3 separate regions of the Homo sapiens genome follow, and regions 2 and 3 are each reported to be linked to region 1. The links are microRNA targets in miRTarBase. Many come from high-throughput screens and were not tested one by one. Region 1 holds a microRNA gene; each other region holds the end of a gene's coding sequence. Distances are between the middles of the regions.

Evidence for each region. The annotated mature microRNA hsa-miR-6879-5p reads CAGGGCAGGGAAGGUGGGAGAG and lies in region 1 at 4,984-5,005, opposite strand. An mRNA with a match to its seed (bases 2 to 7 or 8) in the 3' UTR can be bound and repressed. Matches are read on the target gene's strand: a 7mer-m8 pairs with bases 2 to 8, a 7mer-A1 pairs with bases 2 to 7 and ends in A, and an 8mer does both.
Region 2: miRTarBase lists DCUN1D5 as a target of hsa-miR-6879-5p. Seed matches in the 3' UTR shown: 7mer-m8 at 4,295-4,301 and 7mer-m8 at 5,911-5,917.
Region 3: miRTarBase lists PMEPA1 as a target of hsa-miR-6879-5p. Seed matches in the 3' UTR shown: 7mer-m8 at 3,551-3,557.

What each region holds. Positions count from the first base shown.
Region 1 is chr11:65,016,396-65,023,514 of GRCh38, reverse strand. It overlaps MIR6879 (microRNA 6879), which reads right to left and starts at 5,010; the gene lies at 4,945-5,010. ARL2 (ARF like GTPase 2) reads right to left here. Exons shown (of 5, transcript NM_001667.4): 2 at 5,041-5,151; 3 at 4,782-4,944; 4 at 3,016-3,096; 5 at 1,331-1,794. The coding sequence ends at 1,660. ARL2-SNX15 (ARL2-SNX15 readthrough (NMD candidate)) reads right to left here. Exons shown (of 11, transcript NR_037650.2): 2 at 5,041-5,151; 3 at 4,782-4,944.
Region 2 is chr11:103,056,288-103,063,406 of GRCh38, reverse strand. It overlaps DCUN1D5 (defective in cullin neddylation 1 domain containing 5), which reads left to right. Exons shown (of 8, transcript NM_032299.4): 8 at 993-7,119. The coding sequence ends at 1,048. Among named protein-coding and RNA genes, the nearest start is that of DCUN1D5, 32 kb to the left of the region's middle.
Region 3 is chr20:57,645,918-57,653,036 of GRCh38, reverse strand. PMEPA1 (prostate transmembrane protein, androgen induced 1) reads left to right here. Exons shown (of 4, transcript NM_020182.5): 3 at 1-4; 4 at 439-4,641. The coding sequence ends at 984. Among named protein-coding and RNA genes, the nearest start is that of ZBP1, 29 kb to the right of the region's middle.

The DNA of each region.
Region 1 (7,119 bases):
TCCAGGCATAGTACCTCCCCTTGAACTTAATTATGACACAGATTCTTTTGCTCACGTTTTTTTGCTGACCTTCTCCCTATTATCACCCTGCTCTCCTACCACATTCTTCTTGCTGAGATAGTGAAAGTAATAATCAATAAAAACTGAAGAAACTAAGAGACCGGTCCCAGTGTGGGTCCTTGGTATGCTGAGCGCCGGTCCCCTGGGCCCACTTTTCTTTCTCTATACTTTGTGTCCTATTTCTTTTCTCAGTCTCTCGTCCCACCTGACGAGATATACCCACAGGTGTGGAGGGACAGGCCACCCCTTCACACAGAACCCTGCAGAGTAAGCAGCTGCTAGGACCCTGTGCCATGAAAACATCTGCCAGTTTTGCCACTTGGATTGGACCCCTGGGGTGGCCTCATTTCCTATCCTTTCCCAACCTGGCACTGCTTCTGAGTTCCTGTAGCCTTCAGGGAAGGCCTCAGTTACCCCTGCCTGATGTGGCCCCCCTCCCACCCTCTGGCTGCACTCTCTCCTACACATGACTCTATGCACCTCCCCATTTCCCAAGAGCCATTGCTTTTTTTTTTTGAGACAGAGTCTCGCTCTGTCACCCAGGCTGGAGTGCAGTGGCGCAATCTCGGCTCACTGCCAGCTCCGTCTTCCCGGGTTCACGCCATTCTCCTGCCTCAGCCTCCCGAGTAGCTGGGACTACAGGCGCCCGCCACCACGCCCGGATAATTTTTTGTATTTTTAGTAGAGACGGGGTTTCACCGTGTTAGCCAGGATGGTCTTGATCTCCTGACTTCATGATCCGCCCATCTTGGCCTCCCAAAGTGCTGGGATTACAGGTGAGCCACCGCGCCCAGCCGGAGCCCTTGCTCATCATGCCTGTCCTGTGATCCCCTCTGCCTGAATCTGTGCTGGCCTTGTACAGCTGTTCAGGTTGTCCACTGCACATGGGTTCCTGGCTGCAACAGAGAATTGGGAGCTGAATTTCAGCCCATGTTCCATGCAAAAAGTTGGAGCCCTGGTCTGCAGCTGTGTCTGTTTTTCTAATTCATACCTATGAGAGTTGGATTTCCCCTGGTGAACTGTCTTCCCCTTCCTCTACCTAGAAAACTACTCGCGCTTTACTCCCAGCTTTAATGTGACCTCCTTTAGGAAGCCTGCAGATGGAATCAGTTGCACCGTGTCCCATGCTTCTATAACTTTTTCTGCATCCCTTTGACATAGCCACAGTTCACCATCGACTCCAATGATCCATTCCTTTCTGTCCCCTGCTAGATTGAGGGTCCCAGGTGGTCTCTAACGCTGTTGAATCAACAAATGACTCAGCCAGGAATCGGGGCAAGGAGCGGTTTATTTCACAACTGAGTGAAGGATGAGGCCCACAGCCTCGGTAGCAGCAGTAGCAGCTCCTCCCCGCCCAGCCCTCTCTTCTTGGTATGGTAGCCAAAGGCCAGGTCAGGAGCCAGAGAGACAGCCAGGGCACAGCCCTCCCGCCATGGGAGCCGGGTGGCCACAGAGCAGCAGCGGGCAGCAGTAGCAGCAGCAGGCTGGGGTGGAGGAGGGGGAGTGTTAGTTTGGCCGGCTGACTCCCAACCCCCCATGGGTAGTGTTTGGTGAAGGTTGAGGGACCTGGACTGCTAGGTGGGGGGCATCTGGAGTGGTTCAGTCAGCTGTGAAAATGCGGCTGGAAATGTCATCCAGGAGCCAGTCGATGCCCGGCAGCAGGTTCTCCCCGGTGACGGCGCTGCAGCCCTGGATGCACCAGTGGTGGCTGCGGATGGAGTCCAGCTCCAGGACCTGGGAGGACAAAGGTGCTGATGGTGGTGGCCAGTGACTGCAGACCCTGCCTGCCGTCAGCCCCTTCCCTCCCCAGCCCAGAGGAACTCCACGCCTTCCTCAAGGCCCTGCTCCATGTCATCCCATCCAGGAAGCCCCGCCGGTCCCAGGGAGAGTTTGTCAGACCCCAGGGGCACCTGGGCTCTCTGTCCAGTTCCATGCCAGTGCTGCCCCTTAGTGATGTAAATGCAGCATGGGCTCCTGAGCATCCACCAGGATCCGGGCATCGTGCTAGGAGCCCCACACACCCTCTCTCACTCATTCTCCTCAAGCCCTCATGAGCCAGGGATTGTGTCGACCATTTCACCAAGGAGGAAACCAAAGTTCAGAGAGGTTAAGCAACCTGCCTAGGGGAACATAGCTCATAAGTGGCAGAGCCAAGATTTTAACCCTGCTCTTTCTCACTGTGGTGCTTGAGCACTAGAATCATGGTTAAAATGTGGGCTCTGGGGTCAGACACAGGCTTCCTGTCTATTTAGTGGCTGTGTGACCTGGGACAAGTTACCTAACCTCTGTGAGCCTGCTTCACCATCTGTAAAATAATAGTTCTCACCTCATGAGGTGGTTGTGAGAATGAAATGAGTTAATCCATGCAAGGAGCAGAGCATACTGAAAGCACTGACTTGTGCTGGCTACCGTTAGCCTGTGAACAACACATGCGCAGCTCTGCCTTCCCCAGGCTGTGGGCCACCCCATGCCTTATTAATCACTGGATCCCCAGTGCCCTGCATAGGTCCTGCCACCTAGCAGGGCTAGGCTAATAAATGCTTTTCTTATTATTATTTTACTTCTTTCTTTTTTTTTTTTTTTTTGAGACGAAGTCTCACTCTTTTCCCACAGGCTAGAGTACAATGGCGCAATCTTGGCTCACTGCAACCTCCACGTCCTGGGTTCAAGCGATTCTCCTGTCTCAGCCTCCTGAGTAGCTGGGCTTACAGGCGCACGCCACTGCACCCAGCTAATTTTTGTATTTTTAGTACAGACGGGGTTTCATCATGTTGGTCAGGCTGGTCTCGAACTCCTGACCTCAGGTGATCCACTCGCCTTGGCCTCCCAAAGTGCTGGTATTACAGGCGTGAGCCACTGCACCCAGCCTTTTTGGTTATTTTTAATAAATGCTTTTAAAATAAATAAATGTATGCCCCTTTCCCTCAGCGAGCCTGTCCCGGGGCCTGGACTCACCTCGCGGATGGCGTTAGAGGACAGTGCTCCAGGCAGGTCCTGCTTATTAGCAAAGATGAGGAGGGTTGCTCCGGCCAGGCGCTGGGGGAGAAAAGATAGAGGGGTGGGGTGGGGACTCAGAGGACAGCCTGACCCCTCCTCTAATGGCCCAGAGCATCTGGGGTGAAGGATCGACCTGGAAGATCAAGGTGAGGCCCCGTGGTGGTGGGAGAGGCCCAGGAGTGAGTTTGTGGACGTAGCCATCAAGGCTGGCCCACATGAATGGAGCAGCCCTGGGCCAGGGTTCTGGTTCCAGCCAACCACCACCCAGGGGACACCGCTGTCCCCATGCTCCAGCTTCCTCTTCCATGAACAGGGAGGGGTGTTGCATAAGATGATCCCTGAGCTCTCCGTGGTTCTAGACTGCTCCAATCTGATGACCAGACATGCACAGAGGATGTGAACTCTCCCTCTTCTGGGTTCACACAGCCCTTTAACCGTTCCACTCCCGACAGGCCTCACTGTCCACCTCTGATTCTAGTTGTTTCCACATATGTGTCTGTGATTGGGAGAGATGTGGGTGGACGGGTCTAACCCTTGGGCCTTGACCTGCCTTGACCAGCATTTGACGGCCCTGATCTCATCTGACCTGCTCCACCCACATAGGAGATGTGTGCGGTGTGCCCAGGACAGTCCCCACTCTGCCTGCAGAATCCCCCCTTTCACTCTCACAAGTGTCCTCATTTTCAACTAAATGCAATTTTGTAGCCTGAATCAAACATTGGAACACAAAAAGTATATTAGTGGAAAAACGTGAAATTCAAATAAAATCTGTAATTAAGATAATAGTAATTCACCAGTGTTGATTTATTAGTTTGGACAGGCCACGGTTAGGTAAGATGGGGAAGCAAGGTAAAGGGTATATGGGGGACCTCTGACCTCTGTACTATCTTTGCAAGTGTCCTTCTTTTTTTTTTTTGAGACGGAGTCTCACTCTGTTGCCCAGGCTGGAGTGCAGTGGCACAATCTCGGCTCACTGCAAGCTCCGCCTCCCAGGTTCACGCCATTTTCCTGCCTCAGCCTCCTGAGTAGCTGGGACTACAGGCGCCCGCCACCATGCCTGGCTAATTTTTTGTATTTTTAGTAGACACGGGGTTTCACCATGTTAGCCAGGACGGTCTCGATCTCCTGACCTCGTGATCCGCCCGCTTCAGCCTCCCAAAGTGCTGGGATTACAGGCGTGAGCCACCGCACCTGGCCCCTTCCTTTTTTTTTTTTTTTGAGACAGGGTCTTGCTCTGTCGCCCAGGAGGCTGGAGTGCAGTGGCACGATCACAGCTCACTGCAGCCTCAACCTCCTGGGCTCAACTGATCCTCCTGTCTGAGCCTCCAGAGTAGCTAGGACTATAGGTGCGTGCCACCACCCCCAGCTGAGGTCACACAGCAAAGAGTCAGACTCTTGAGCCAGGCTCCATGGCCTCTCGAAGCTTCATACTGGCCTTGGGTTATCCTCCCTAAAGCCCAGTGATGTGGGTGTCATCATCACCATTTCAAGGCATAGAAACTGATGCTCAGGGTAGTGACGTAGTAACACCACAGGGACGTTAACTCAATCTCAGTCCACAGCATGTGTCCTGCCTCTGGCACCATGGGCCTCCCATGGTGGGGGCCCAGAGAAGGAAGGGATCCTGCCTCTGGTTTCCCTCTGGGGCCACGGGCCCCTCTGGGCATCTGCTGAGAAGGCAGCCACACGTCCATACATGTACACAAAGGGTAGGAGCTGCCCACCTCCTCCACCAGCAGGCTCTGGAGCTCCCGCTGGCAGTCCTGCATGCGCTGGCGGTCTGCGCTGTCCACTACCCAGATGAGGCCATCGGTGCTCTCAAAGTAGTTCCGCCAGTAGGACCGCAGGGACTTCTGGCCACCCACATCCCAGATGTTCAGCTTGAATCTGGGCAAGGAGCGGGTGACAGGAGGGTCAGCTGGGCCCCTCTCCCACCTTCCCTGCCCTGCTCTGGGCTGGCCCTCCCATGGGGCCCCTGCTCACCCTCGGTGCTCCAGGGTCTTGATGTTGAAGCCCAGCGTTGGGGAGATGGTGTCGATGTCCTCCCCATTGAACTTCTTCAGGATGGTTGTCTTTCCAGCATTGTCCAGGCCACTGGGGCGCAGCAGGTTAAGGAGAAGTCCCTGTTCTCTGCCAGGTGGTGACATTGTTGCAGAGCCCCTTAGGGGACTCATTATTTCCCACCATGTATCAAACTGAGTTGAGCACATGCCTGACCATAATCGGCCCACAATAAATATGAAAGTATCAAATTATAAATATCATCTCTACTGACCAAAGGCTCCTTAATTTGTTGAACACCTACTATGTGCCAGACCCTCTTCTGGGTGCTAGAGGACAAAGCCCTGCCCTTAGGAAGCTTACACTCTAGCGGGAAGACAGTCAATAAAGTACAAACAAATGAGAAAAGAAGGCCCTGCCAGATCCCGGCTAGCGCCATCAACACAACAGAGAGGCTTTCCAAGAGGGCCATCGGAGGAGGCTCTTTCAGCTCAGGTGCCGGGGAAGGCCTCTCTGAGGTGTCTGGAGCTGAGACCCAAAATACAAGGAGCAAGCTTTTTGAAGAACTAAGGTAAGAACAAATATCTGGAGGCAGCCACCCTCATTTGTTTCTGGAATATTCCAGACCTGCTACTGCACAGTGCAAATTAATGGGTGTGCTTACCTGTGGAAGGAACCACCCTCCTCTATCTTCCCAACACTGCAGCTCAGTTGGGCATGGTGGGGTGGGCGGGTCCTGGACTCGACCACCTTTCCCTGCTCATCGGAGCTGGGGCAAATGACCTAGGCCCAGGAGAGGGGTGAGGAGGGCATTTCCCCTGAGGCCCAGCCTTAGCCCCTGGAACCTAGCCGCTGATGACCCCCTGCCCCCAAGCCATCATCCATGTTTCCTTCCCCTCTTGATCATTCCCACTGGCTGATGAGCTTGCCGTTCTTTCTCCCACCTTAAAAAGAGCAAATAGGCCGGGCGCGGTGGCTCACACCTGTAATCCCAGCACTTTGGGAGGCCAAGGTGGGTGGATCATCTGAGGTCAGGAGTTCGAAACCAGCCTGACCAACAAGGTGAAACCCCATCTCTACTAAAACTACAAAAATCAGCCAGGCGTGGTGGCGGGCCCCTATAGTCCCAGCTACTCGGGAGGCTGAGACAGGAGAATTGCTTGAACCCGGCAGGCAGAGGTTGCAATGAGCCGAGATCACACCACTGTACTCCAGCCTGGGCGACTCAGCGAGACCCCGTCTGATTAAAAAAAAAAAAAGAGCAAACAAAGCCCTTGATCTCTCTGCCCCATCTAGTTATTCATTTATATCTTTCCTTTTACAGGAAATCTCAAAATAGTTGTTTGTGCTCACCCCCATTTCTGCCTTCTTGCTCTTTCAAGAACACACTCCCATCAGGCTTTTGCTGCTGCTGTGGCCAAAACTGTCCTTACCAAGGTCAGTCCCCAAAGACCTCCCTGTGGCCCTCTAGTGCTGGGACAGCGCTCAGTCATCTTCTGTTCCCCACTCAGCACCTGATGGAGTGGCTCACCCTCCTCCCCAGCACATGCGCTGCCCTTGGCACTGGGACACACCCTCACCTGGTTCTGCTCCTCACCTGACTTCATCCTGGTACAACCGGGTTCTCTTCTCTGGCCACGCTCATCCCTGGGTGACCTCATCCAGGATCACAGCTTCAAATACCATCTCTATCCTGATAACACCCAAATGTGCACCTCCCACACACTGGACCTCAGTGCCTACATCCAGCTGCCTGCCTGACACTTCTGGGCTGTCTCGGAGGCATCTCACATGGCACACACAGGCACACACAGGGTTCTCATCTCCACCCTGAACCTGCTCCTCCCCCAGTCCTCTCCATCTCAGCAAATGGTTCCTCACCCTTCTAATTGCTCAGGCCAGAAACTTCCATGACCTCACTACTTCCATCCTGGTCCAAGCCACCATCCTATCTCGCCTGCGTCACTGCAGTGGCCTAACTGGTCTGCGATTCCTTCTCTCCACTGCACTTCTCACTGAAAGGGAAAACCAAAAACCAAAAGGCCCTAGGTGAGGGGGTTC
Region 2 (7,119 bases), 38 Mb from region 1:
GCAGCCCAAAGGCTGTATATGGCCCGTAGATGTGTATATTTATGTATTTTGTATCAGCATTTAAAACTAGGAGATTTTGTATTAAAATACAACATTTAGATTTGTTGGAAAAATTTAAAAAGTCTGACAAAACTGTACCTTTATAGTACTCCTTTATAGGAGTCAGAGGCTGGAGTCAAGTGTTAACTGTGTTGGACTTGCTTTTCAGTTTGACAGTTCATGGTATGCCAACACCTAGGCTGTTTTTCAGTTGCCATTTATTATCATATGTGCTCTGCTGCTTTTCTTACGATAGAGAAACATGTCTGTCAAAAGCAATGGAAAAAGACCACCAGAGGATTATGTGTTTTAAGAAGAATAAAGCAAGCATATTTCTTTGTGGCGGTGATTTTTTTCCTACATTTAAACAAAATAAACACTGAGCTCATTTAAACTGCCTACTTGGCTCTGTCAGCAAATGAGTTTGGACCTCCCCTACGTTATAAAAATATATGTTTTAGAATAGTACTTAGCTCATTAATTAGATATTCATTAGGCACTTGCTTTGTGTTCAGCTTTGTACTACATCCTGTTATTGGAATAAAGTAAGTCTCTATTATGGCTGATCCCTCTCAACAAGCTTGTACACTTCTTGGGGAGGCAACATAGAAATATTACCTTCAACACTTTTCAGATTGTTTCATAATTAAATGCCAGAATGCTATGGACACTTAGAAAAAGGGAGAGATTTGTATTGACTCAGTTACTGGAGGGTTCATGAAACACCTTGAGAAGGAAGTTGCTATAGATACCATTGTTCCTTGTGTCTTTAAGGGCAAAAAAGAAAAGGCTAATAAGAAAGCACCATTAAATGGAATAAGGTGTCTAGAAGCAGAACACCCAAAGAAAGGAAGGGTCATTCCTCTGTCATTGCAGAGCTCGTGGGGAGTTTGTTTTATAATTGGAGAGATGAGTTCACTGAATTCTGACAAAAATGGTTTCTTTTTTTCTAGGGCCTGTTCTTCTTGATGAATTTGTTGAGTGGCAAAAAGTCCGTCAGACATCATAGCAAGAACTATGTGAAGAAAATGCAAACCTTTCAATTCCCACGTGTATACAAGCTAATGTGATGAGGGGGAAAAAAATCCAACGGGTGCATTTTCATTCATATGAAAGACTTCTCATAGTACTTTTTTTTCCTTTTTTTAAAGGAGGTTTTTCTTGTTACATGTGATGGGCATTGAGCCACACCTCTTCTTAGACTGAATATTGAAGTTTTTGTTTTGAGTTATGTTTATAACATTTATTTCAGAACAATAAAGATTCAGATTTGTGACAAAGGCCTTAAAGTGAAGATGTCCCTTGAGTGTCAGAGTGGTATTTATTTTTGTAAATTTGAATTTTTTGATTTTTGAGGTTCCAATTCACCGTGAATTTACAGAATTTTCAAGATTTTAAACAGTCTTAATATTTGGCAACATAGTCTGCTGATGGTATGGCTCATTATAGTCATCTCTGCACAATTTGGAAGACTGTTGGCCTTGACTTCTGGGATAATGATTTGCTGATGCAGCTAATAAACATTTCTAGGTATTGGAAAAATGCTCCTACTTTTAGCTCTGGGTTTCTATAAAAGCTGCCAAGGTCTTATGCAGATGTCTTATCTCAGAGAGCTTAGAATTGGAAAGATTATGTCCAGTTGTTTTGTTTTCTAAAAAAGTTGTATTATTAAGTTGTATCATCATTATTATTGTTGATAATAGCATATTTATATTTTTAACTGTCATTATATAGGGAATTTTGTTTAAAGCACTTTTTTTTTTTTTTTTTGCCTTAAGAGAACGTTAGCTGTGATATGGATTTAATTAAGATACACATAGGAAAAGAAGACAATAGAATAAGGAATCATGAGAGAACTCTGGGTATAATTAATTGTGCACAACTCAATAGAGCCATTTACGTTGGTAGTATTGCAGCTTGCTAATTATCACAATTTTCTGCCTGTTGGTAATCAAGTGTCTTGAGGAAAGGGAAGGCTTTCCTAATTCATGTAAAAGGCACTTTTGTACTAGCAGCAGGCCTGTTTGTACATTCCTTTTCAAACCATCCAGTATCCCAGTGATATGAAAACTTTGTTCATATTCATAGCCCAGTCACAACTTCAGAAACATTTCTAGTGTCATTGTTTGAGTAGAGAGAAGTAAAGAGGTTATTTTTCCATAATAAGGGAGTGTTTCTATTAGGATTTAAGGTAAAGGTTGATTTTTCAGTGGTGAATTTGTTTAAAGAATGATTTCTCCATATTGATTACCTAAGAGAATGACATTTTAAAGTGTTTTATTGTTTGCTTTTTAGTTAATCAGCTGGGAAAAAAATGATTGCCACTGTTTTACTTGCCTTCTTAATAAGATTACTTTGTACAGTTTTCTGAAACACCCATAATAGTGGGAGACAGTTTTCCTAAATGTCTTATAGAAAAGGATAATACAGAATGCTCCTCTTAAGTATTAGAATCACTGAGTTATGAACTGAGCATACCAGTGGTGTTAGGATTTAATATTATGAATGATGTTTTAATATCAAATTTATTATAAGGAAAGCATTTAGATTTGTAGACCTTTAAATTTATAATTTAGTTGACTCTTCAAGGCACATCTGAACTGAAGAACATATCCACTTTTGTTAAATTCCAAAACATATAAGCAAAATCTTATAAATTGTCCATTTGTAACCTGAACTAATGGTAATATCTTTTTCATCTTCAGTATTTGAGTAAAATAGGGAACACTTAAAGCTTATAGATGACATGTTTTTTAAAAGGTATATTTATGAAAGCACAGGCATCCTTGGTATACGCAGGAGATTGATACCAGGACCCTTGTGTATACCCAAATCTGTGCATACTTAAGTCCTACAGTCATCCCTGTGGAACCTGCCTGTATAAAAAGTCAGCCCTCCCCGTGTATGTAGGTGTCGCATCCCGGGAATACTGTATTTTCAATCCATGTTTGGTTTAAAAAAATCTGCGTATAAGCAGACCCACACAGTTCAAACTCATGCTGTTCAAGGGTCAACAGTATTTACTTTGCATACTTATCCAAAGATACCTTTAAGACTTTTTGAGTCTGAAAATGAAATTTACTTTATTTTTTCCCTTAAAGTCAACTGTCCTATCCTACCCTAGCCATACTTTGGAGTCCAGTACCACTGAGGCCACGCTTGCTTTACTCTATTGCTCCATCTATTTCTCTTACCTTCTTAAAGTTATAACATTTGCCTACTTTGAAGGCAAATTTACTCTGCCTAATTCATCAGTCAGGGTGTGGGCTGTGTCCCTTCCTGTCTTTCCTTTGTTAATTTTGAATAGCATTTAATTTACTGGGAAATTTATGATCAAAAATGTTAAGTGATATAAACAATACAATATTAAGGACCCTGCAGTATAAAAAAGTCTAACTGTTGTGGTTCCTTTTTTGACTAGTTAGCTTTAAGTGCCTTCCCACGAACCCTGTTGTAAAATTTTCAGAACTACTTCCCTTTGTACAGGATGAAATACCGTATGGTGCTTTATAACATGGAGTTGAGTTGTTTCTATAAGAATATTATACAAATGTAATACTACTGGGAGAAAGTAGAGCCAGATGTTGATTGGACAGATTGCAACCCCCCCACCCCCCCACTCCTCGGGGCCAATAATTCTTAATAAGGTATGATGTTAATACCTCTAGGAAATTGCCAGGGATTCAGGTGACAGTGTGTGATGAAAACGGTGTATTGTGTGCTGGCCTGACTGCATTACCATGTTTGTCTTCTATTGTCTAATGATTTCTTATTTCTTAAATGCTGCTGATAAAATTATTGATATAATACATTTTTGACAGTAGTAGCATTTTTGTGTATAATGTATAGATTTTATTGGTTTTTACTCAGAAGCACTCTAGATTAGTGTTTCTTGAACTGCAATTTGAAGCCTTCTTTGGGAATGTTAGATTGAGGAGTATTTCTCTTAAATACAAATGCCTTTTCATCTAGCAAACCAAAAATTATATCTTAATATTGAATGCCATCACTCGGGGTCGGGGTGGGAGTAAATTCTGAGATAACTCCAGAGTTTTCAAGGCATACAAGGTATGTGGAATAGCACAGATTCAGAATACATGATACATACGTATAAAATGAAACATTTCACTTTGAAGTATTTCTTCAACAAAACATGTCCTGTCTGCCTACTTGCTAATGTGAAATTATGAAAGGATTTATTGAAATATATGTTCAGTTTGAGGTGTAATTGGTAAGAATGCCAGGTGTTGTTCTTCTGCCCTCTTAAAGAAGTGTACTTAAAACTATTGTGATAATTCATCTCTGATAAAACTTTGTTCTGGCCTTCAAGGCTCTTACAGCTTAATGTTTTAAATGTCTAAGGCATCAAATAAATTGAGGGCATTTTAATAAAAAAAAAAAAGGAAAACTAAATGCCTTTCTTTGTTAAAGCAAAAGGCCAAAAATAAAAAATAAAATTAAAACCCCCCCCAAAAAAACCCAAAAGTCTTACTCCTAAAGAAGAATTCTTACCTCTAAGGAGGAATCCTTCCCTCTTGAGGAAATACCACTTTTTGAGTGACATTAGAAATCATCACAAGGAAACATTTCAAAGAAAGGATCATTTTTTTTTCAGGAGAAAGAGGAATAACAATTTCATTAACTTCCTCAATAGGAAAGGCTAGTCTGAATTATTAAATATTCTGGATTATATCTTTTTTTAATGATATAGTTTTATTACTTCAGGAATATTTGGTAAGAACCAGGTAAACCTATTGTTTAAGATTTGTTCTTTTTTGTTAATAGACCTATGATTAGTATGGTGGAAGCCCAAAAAGCAGTCTAATTTTTATGATAAACTTACAGACTGTGGAAAGATGAATTTCTGCCCCAAACCTTGGATAAGTTGTCATTAATTTAATTGTAGAGATTTTTCTAGTGAACTTGTACTTCACTGGAACAAATCTTTAGATCTTTTAAAGCACAATTTATTTATGTTTTTAAAAACAGTCTTAAAACTGATCGATCATACATTTGCTGTGTCCACCTTACAATCTTTTACATTCTATTAGTACAGATAGTGTTTCCTTTGCTCCTTTTCCTGACCAGTTGTTATTGGTGTGACCATTTTCTTTTTAGGATCGATGAAACATTTTGCTGTGTATGCTGTGTCATGTATTAGAACCTCTTATAATATGGCTCATTTTTACATGGTTTCTGATTTACCATGTGTTAAATATTCCTTAAAATACATCTAGTAACACTATATAGTAAGGTTAGATTTTAACCTAAGTATTGAATCTTGTCTTATAATGCCAATTTTATTGGAGCTTTGTTGCATTTATTTTTGGCTCTATGGTCCATAAATGGGAGTTAATAGCAAACGTTTTATTAAAAATGTCTTAGCTTTCCCCCAAATTATATCATTTTTTAGAAGTTTTATCCTTCTGGGGTGTTTTTGGCTTTCTGAGCTTTAAGATATTAATGAATTTTTTCCACATACTTCATGGGTTTGGTTTTAAGTATGAGGTTAAAATTGTGGATTTTAAAAAGCTAATAAATACTTGAAGTGAATATATAGAGAGAGCCAGATTTCCCCAAAACTCTGTGAGCTGTGTGTGTTTTGTGTAGAATATTAGCCATAATTAACTTTTCCCTTTTTTTTTTTGGAGACAGGGTCTTACTCTGTCACCCAGGATGGAGTGCAGTGGTGCGGTCTCAGCTCACTGCAGCCTCGACCTCCTGGGTTCAAGAGATTCTCGTGCGTCAACCTCCCAAGTAGCTGGGATTACAGATGCCTGCCACCATGCCCAGCTAAGTTTTGTATTTTTTTTTTTGTTTGTTTTAGTAAAGATGGGATTTCACCATGTTGGCCAGGCTGGTCTCAAACTCCTGCCCTCAAGTGATCCCACCCACCTCAGACTCCCAAAGTGCTGGGATTACAGGTGTGAGCCACCACTCCTGGGAAATAATTAACTTTTTCACATAGAAAATAGATCACAGATAAAAGCTCCTCACATATTTTGAAGGTCAAAAAAAAATTTGCTGTTGCTAACAATTGCCTTTGAACCATGAAAGAGGAAAAACTAACTTTATTTGAGCAACTTGTCATTTGAGACTTAAACTAACTTATCAAACTTAGCAGAATTAACTTGTGAGTATTGACTTAAGTGAAGTTAGTTTATATACTTTACTATTCTGTCATGCAAATAAAATGGCTTAGAGCAAGTTCATACACAGTTACTTTTATCTACAAATGTAGAAATCTTACCTATTTGAAATTTACATTATTCCCTGAAACTATGCCTATTGAGAGAGAGTTTATAGAAGTATTATCTGAGAAACCTGAGTTTGATTTTCTTTTTGTGACATTCCTGTTAATGTCACTTTTAAACAAGCCACTTAACCTATGTCATTTTCAGTTTCTTCTGTAAAATGGCGATAATGATACCTACCAGTATTGTTACGAAGTTCAAATAGGCCCTATCCACAGCACTTAGTAGGTGTTAAATGAATGCGTCTTGTTACTTGAACAAGAAGTGGTTAGTTATGATAGTTTATTTTTTTCTGACAAATTTACTGTCTTTTATAAAAAGAAATAGCTAGGATTTCCTGTGTTATCCTGCCATTTTTATAATCAAACAAAATTATTAATATTCTCCTTAGACTAAATCATTAATTTAACAAATCTCAAGCATCTACTATATGCCAAGAAGTATTCTAGGCCTGAATATATTGCAGGGCACGAAGCAAGACAGTAATTTCGAACCTTTATGGGATTTTTATTTTAATTGGTTAGTAAAATAGTTTATCATTTGGTGACAAGGTTATATGGGGAAAGTAAGTTGAGGAAGGGGCCCAGAGAGTGTGTGAGGATAGGATTACTATTAAGTAGCATGTACACTGATATGTGACATTGAGCAGAGGCCTGAGGAGGTGAATGGTTGTGCAGTGTGGATATCTGGGAGGAGAGCATTCCAGGCAGAAGGAATATTACATGCTAAGGCCCTGAGCTGGTACAGAGTGTAAAGAAACAGTAAAGAGATCAGTGTGACTGTAGTGAACAATAATAGCATTTTAGGGAGAATTAGAAAATGAACT
Region 3 (7,119 bases), not on the chromosome of region 1:
AGAGGTGAGACCTCCCTCGGCCTCCCCTCCAACACCCCCATCCCACCCTGGGCTGCTCCCGCTGCGGCTGGAACAGTGTGGGCTGCTAAAGGCTCACCCCTCCGCCCTCCTCTGCAGTGCCCTTGCTGCTGGGATCCTCCTTGCCGGAGATCATCTGCTCCCTGCCCCTGAGGGAGCAGCCCAGCTCTCTGCTCTCTGCACACGGGAGCACGGACGCTGCCACTGTTTGGAGGAGGGCGGTGCAGCTCTGCAGTGCTGCCCCCCAGGCCAGGGCCCCCGCGGGATCAGGCTCTGGGCTCCCGCCCCCGCCAGCCCTGCTGCCCTCTCCCTTTCCCCAGAGAGCCAAGTCCCATGCAGCAGAACTCCAGTCTCAGGATCGCTTCTGGACAACCCACCTGAGACAGCCGCCCTCCCTCACTCCCGCTCTGCTTCCTCCAGCCGCAGGTCTACGCCCCGCCTCGGCCCACCGACCGCCTGGCCGTGCCGCCCTTCGCCCAGCGGGAGCGCTTCCACCGCTTCCAGCCCACCTATCCGTACCTGCAGCACGAGATCGACCTGCCACCCACCATCTCGCTGTCAGACGGGGAGGAGCCCCCACCCTACCAGGGCCCCTGCACCCTCCAGCTTCGGGACCCCGAGCAGCAGCTGGAACTGAACCGGGAGTCGGTGCGCGCACCCCCAAACAGAACCATCTTCGACAGTGACCTGATGGATAGTGCCAGGCTGGGCGGCCCCTGCCCCCCCAGCAGTAACTCGGGCATCAGCGCCACGTGCTACGGCAGCGGCGGGCGCATGGAGGGGCCGCCGCCCACCTACAGCGAGGTCATCGGCCACTACCCGGGGTCCTCCTTCCAGCACCAGCAGAGCAGTGGGCCGCCCTCCTTGCTGGAGGGGACCCGGCTCCACCACACACACATCGCGCCCCTAGAGAGCGCAGCCATCTGGAGCAAAGAGAAGGATAAACAGAAAGGACACCCTCTCTAGGGTCCCCAGGGGGGCCGGGCTGGGGCTGCGTAGGTGAAAAGGCAGAACACTCCGCGCTTCTTAGAAGAGGAGTGAGAGGAAGGCGGGGGGCGCAGCAACGCATCGTGTGGCCCTCCCCTCCCACCTCCCTGTGTATAAATATTTACATGTGATGTCTGGTCTGAATGCACAAGCTAAGAGAGCTTGCAAAAAAAAAAAGAAAAAAGAAAAAAAAAAACCACGTTTCTTTGTTGAGCTGTGTCTTGAAGGCAAAAGAAAAAAAATTTCTACAGTAGTCTTTCTTGTTTCTAGTTGAGCTGCGTGCGTGAATGCTTATTTTCTTTTGTTTATGATAATTTCACTTAACTTTAAAGACATATTTGCACAAAACCTTTGTTTAAAGATCTGCAATATTATATATATAAATATATATAAGATAAGAGAAACTGTATGTGCGAGGGCAGGAGTATTTTTGTATTAGAAGAGGCCTATTAAAAAAAAAAGTTGTTTTCTGAACTAGAAGAGGAAAAAAATGGCAATTTTTGAGTGCCAAGTCAGAAAGTGTGTATTACCTTGTAAAGAAAAAAATTACAAAGCAGGGGTTTAGAGTTATTTATATAAATGTTGAGATTTTGCACTATTTTTTAATATAAATATGTCAGTGCTTGCTTGATGGAAACTTCTCTTGTGTCTGTTGAGACTTTAAGGGAGAAATGTCGGAATTTCAGAGTCGCCTGACGGCAGAGGGTGAGCCCCCGTGGAGTCTGCAGAGAGGCCTTGGCCAGGAGCGGCGGGCTTTCCCGAGGGGCCACTGTCCCTGCAGAGTGGATGCTTCTGCCTAGTGACAGGTTATCACCACGTTATATATTCCCTACCGAAGGAGACACCTTTTCCCCCCTGACCCAGAACAGCCTTTAAATCACAAGCAAAATAGGAAAGTTAACCACGGAGGCACCGAGTTCCAGGTAGTGGTTTTGCCTTTCCCAAAAATGAAAATAAACTGTTACCGAAGGAATTAGTTTTTCCTCTTCTTTTTTCCAACTGTGAAGGTCCCCGTGGGGTGGAGCATGGTGCCCCTCACAAGCCGCAGCGGCTGGTGCCCGGGCTACCAGGGACATGCCAGAGGGCTCGATGACTTGTCTCTGCAGGGCGCTTTGGTGGTTGTTCAGCTGGCTAAAGGTTCACCGGTGAAGGCAGGTGCGGTAACTGCCGCACTGGACCCTAGGAAGCCCCAGGTATTCGCAATCTGACCTCCTCCTGTCTGTTTCCCTTCACGGATCAATTCTCACTTAAGAGGCCAATAAACAACCCAACATGAAAAGGTGACAAGCCTGGGTTTCTCCCAGGATAGGTGAAAGGGTTAAAATGAGTAAAGCAGTTGAGCAAACACCAACCCGAGCTTCGGGCGCAGAATTCTTCACCTTCTCTTCCCCTTTCCATCTCCTTTCCCCGCGGAAACAACGCTTCCCTTCTGGTGTGTCTGTTGATCTGTGTTTTCATTTACATCTCTCTTAGACTCCGCTCTTGTTCTCCAGGTTTTCACCAGATAGATTTGGGGTTGGCGGGACCTGCTGGTGACGTGCAGGTGAAGGACAGGAAGGGGCATGTGAGCGTAAATAGAGGTGACCAGAGGAGAGCATGAGGGGTGGGGCTTTGGGACCCACCGGGGCCAGTGGCTGGAGCTTGACGTCTTTCCTCCCCATGGGGGTGGGAGGGCCCCCAGCTGGAAGAGCAGACTCCCAGCTGCTACCCCCTCCCTTCCCATGGGAGTGGCTTTCCATTTTGGGCAGAATGCTGACTAGTAGACTAACATAAAAGATATAAAAGGCAATAACTATTGTTTGTGAGCAACTTTTTTATAACTTCCAAAACAAAAACCTGAGCACAGTTTTGAAGTTCTAGCCACTCGAGCTCATGCATGTGAAACGTGTGCTTTACGAAGGTGGCAGCTGACAGACGTGGGCTCTGCATGCCGCCAGCCTAGTAGAAAGTTCTCGTTCATTGGCAACAGCAGAACCTGCCTCTCCGTGAAGTCGTCAGCCTAAAATTTGTTTCTCTCTTGAAGAGGATTCTTTGAAAAGGTCCTGCAGAGAAATCAGTACAGGTTATCCCGAAAGGTACAAGGACGCACTTGTAAAGATGATTAAAACGTATCTTTCCTTTATGTGACGCGTCTCTAGTGCCTTACTGAAGAAGCAGTGACACTCCCGTCGCTCGGTGAGGACGTTCCCGGACAGTGCCTCACTCACCTGGGACTGGTATCCCCTCCCAGGGTCCACCAAGGGCTCCTGCTTTTCAGACACCCCATCATCCTCGCGCGTCCTCACCCTGTCTCTACCAGGGAGGTGCCTAGCTTGGTGAGGTTACTCCTGCTCCTCCAACCTTTTTTTGCCAAGGTTTGTACACGACTCCCATCTAGGCTGAAAACCTAGAAGTGGACCTTGTGTGTGTGCATGGTGTCAGCCCAAAGCCAGGCTGAGACAGTCCTCATATCCTCTTGAGCCAAACTGTTTGGGTCTCGTTGCTTCATGGTATGGTCTGGATTTGTGGGAATGGCTTTGCGTGAGAAAGGGGAGGAGAGTGGTTGCTGCCCTCAGCCGGCTTGAGGACAGAGCCTGTCCCTCTCATGACAACTCAGTGTTGAAGCCCAGTGTCCTCAGCTTCATGTCCAGTGGATGGCAGAAGTTCATGGGGTAGTGGCCTCTCAAAGGCTGGGCGCATCCCAAGACAGCCAGCAGGTTGTCTCTGGAAACGACCAGAGTTAAGCTCTCGGCTTCTCTGCTGAGGGTGCACCCTTTCCTCTAGATGGTAGTTGTCACGTTATCTTTGAAAACTCTTGGACTGCTCCTGAGGAGGCCCTCTTTTCCAGTAGGAAGTTAGATGGGGGTTCTCAGAAGTGGCTGATTGGAAGGGGACAAGCTTCGTTTCAGGGGTCTGCCGTTCCATCCTGGTTCAGAGAAGGCCGAGCGTGGCTTTCTCTAGCCTTGTCACTGTCTCCCTGCCTGTCAATCACCACCTTTCCTCCAGAGGAGGAAAATTATCTCCCCTGCAAAGCCCGGTTCTACACAGATTTCACAAATTGTGCTAAGAACCGTCCGTGTTCTCAGAAAGCCCAGTGTTTTTGCAAAGAATGAAAAGGGACCCCATATGTAGCAAAAATCAGGGCTGGGGGAGAGCCGGGTTCATTCCCTGTCCTCATTGGTCGTCCCTATGAATTGTACGTTTCAGAGAAATTTTTTTTCCTATGTGCAACACGAAGCTTCCAGAACCATAAAATATCCCGTCGATAAGGAAAGAAAATGTCGTTGTTGTTGTTTTTCTGGAAACTGCTTGAAATCTTGCTGTACTATAGAGCTCAGAAGGACACAGCCCGTCCTCCCCTGCCTGCCTGATTCCATGGCTGTTGTGCTGATTCCAATGCTTTCACGTTGGTTCCTGGCGTGGGAACTGCTCTCCTTTGCAGCCCCATTTCCCAAGCTCTGTTCAAGTTAAACTTATGTAAGCTTTCCGTGGCATGCGGGGCGCGCACCCACGTCCCCGCTGCGTAAGACTCTGTATTTGGATGCCAATCCACAGGCCTGAAGAAACTGCTTGTTGTGTATCAGTAATCATTAGTGGCAATGATGACATTCTGAAAAGCTGCAATACTTATACAATAAATTTTACAATTCTTTGGAATGAGGCTTTTTCACTTCTTTGGCCAAATGTAGCTCTTCTCACTTCCCACCCCTTTCTACAATAACCCCGGGTGCATTCAAGGGAGGCGAAGCGATCCCTCGGAGCTGCTGGGCAACCTTGAACAGTTCGTTCAAACTTTCTGTTTTATTAGTTCAGGCAGCATTCAGGGAGCCCAGTGAAAACACTAGCTCAGGCAGGTTCTGGTAAAGGGGGTGGTCGTTGTTAAACAATTTTGCAAAACACTGCATACTTTTCCTCCGTCGGGAAATCATTATTCACCATAGCATGACGAAAGCTCTGATAAGGTCTGCAAGGAAAAAAGAAACTGTCTTAGGTAGGGTTCTTCCAGAAGTAACCCCAAGACGTGGCCTTGTGTGTAAGGGATTAGGACGTTTTAAGGATGTGCTCCCAGGGGGCTTCCGCTAAGGGAGTCAGGGAAGAGGATCAAGGAGGGGGAGAACCTGAGCAAGGGAGACACTTGTGGACAGAGTTCCAGCCTCAGCTTGATCCCAAGAGGACCTGTGGGGGCTCTGGACCCTGGAAAGGTAGAGTCCCAGACCCCTCTGGCTCCTGGTGCACAAGATGGAGGAGTGAGTCTCAGAAGCTGCAGAACTGTCCTCCCAGAAGCCAGCCACTAGCAATGCTCATGGAGACAGGGGGAGGGCTGTACAGACTCCCTAAAGGGTTCCAGTGGGACCTGGGGGCACCTGCAGCACCCACTACAGACCCTGTCTCATTTATTTTACTACACTTGGCCCTTGAACAACGAGGGGTTCAAGGCACGCTGAACCCCCTTGCTGTCAAAAATCCATGCGTTACTTGTAAATAAAATTTTTTTAGAGATGGGGATCTCGCCTTGTCACCTAGGCTGGAGTACAGTGGTATGATCATAGCTCACTGCAGCCTTGACCTCCCTCGAGGCTCACAAGGCCCTGCAGAGCCTTCCCATTCTCTCTGGCATCTCCCAGATGTTCCAGCAACATGCACCGGTTTCTCCCCCCACACACCCCATTTTCTCCCTGTGGCTATGCTCACTGCTGCCCCTTCTGCCTGGGATCCCCTTCTCTCAAAGCCCACATTGCCCTGACATCATTCAGACCCAGACCCAGTTCTGATAGCACCTTCTCCAGAAAGCCTCCCAGGATGCCCCCAGCTTCTCTGTGCCGGCTCTACTGAGGCAGTCACTGCACTGCTTGTGGCGTTCATGGCTCCTCCCCAAGGTCACTGCACTGCCTGAGGTCAGGGCCAGACTCACGTCCATTGTCCATGGGGGATAAACACGTGCTCCCAGGAGGGACCAGGCCTGCACTCCACAACTGCTTCCATTCTCACAACACCCCATTCTTCAGACATGGAAACCGAGGCAGAGAAGTCAGCCGGCCTTCTGTGTCACTGGCTTGGAAGAGTTGGGATGCTCTATCCCACCCACGCTGTTTCCTCATCCAATTTCCTCAAAATCTTCCCATGGATGGACAGTCAGATATGAGTAGACAGATGTGCACCATCCAGCTGCCTGTCCACCCCTGGCCTCCCCCACCCACCCCAGTGCAGCCAGTAGGAAACAGGGGAGGAGTGGGCACAGGAGCTGGCACACTTGTATCTGTCTGGGGGCTTCTGGCTGCAAGTAACAAAAAATAAGCAAACAGGGATTTCAGTGACTAGGAAATGCATTATTTCGATAGCAAGATGCTCTAAGGAGTGTCAGGGCCCTGCTGGGCTCCTGGGCTGTTTGTGTCGTCCCTCTAGACCAGGGGTCACCAAACATTGGCCCATACACCAAATCCCCAGCTGCCTGTTTTTGTAAATAAAGCTTTATTGGAAAACAGCCACACCAGTTTAGTTACAGGTCACCTATGGCTGCTTTTGTGCTGCAATGGTAGAGTTGAGTAATTGCCACAAAGGCCATACGATGTACAAAGCCTAAAATGTTTAGAATCTGACCCTTTGCCAAAGTTTTCTGATCTCTGCTGTATTCGTTTGTTTTCACACTGCTGATAAAGACATTCCAGAGACTGGGCAATTTACAAAAGAAAGAGGTTTATTAGACTTGCAGTTCCAGGTGGCTGGGGAGGCCTCACAATCATGGCAGAAGCTGAAAGGCACATCTCACATGGCAGCAGACAAGAGAAGAGAGCTTGTGCAGCAAAACTTCCATTTTTAAAACCATCAGATCTTGTAAGACTTATTCACTATCACAAGAACAGCATGGGAAAGACGCATCCCCGTGATTCAATTTCCTCCCACCAGATTCCTCCCATGACATGTAGTAATTGTGGGAGATACAATTCAAGAGGAGATTTGGGTGGGTACACAGCCAAACCTTACCATTCCACCCCTGAACCCTCCCAAATCTCATATCCATTTTTACATTTCAAAACAAAACATGCCTTCCCAACAGTCCCCCAAATTCTTAACTCATTTCAGCATTAACTCAAAAGTCGACAGTCCAAAGTCTCATCAAAGACAAGGCAAGCCCCT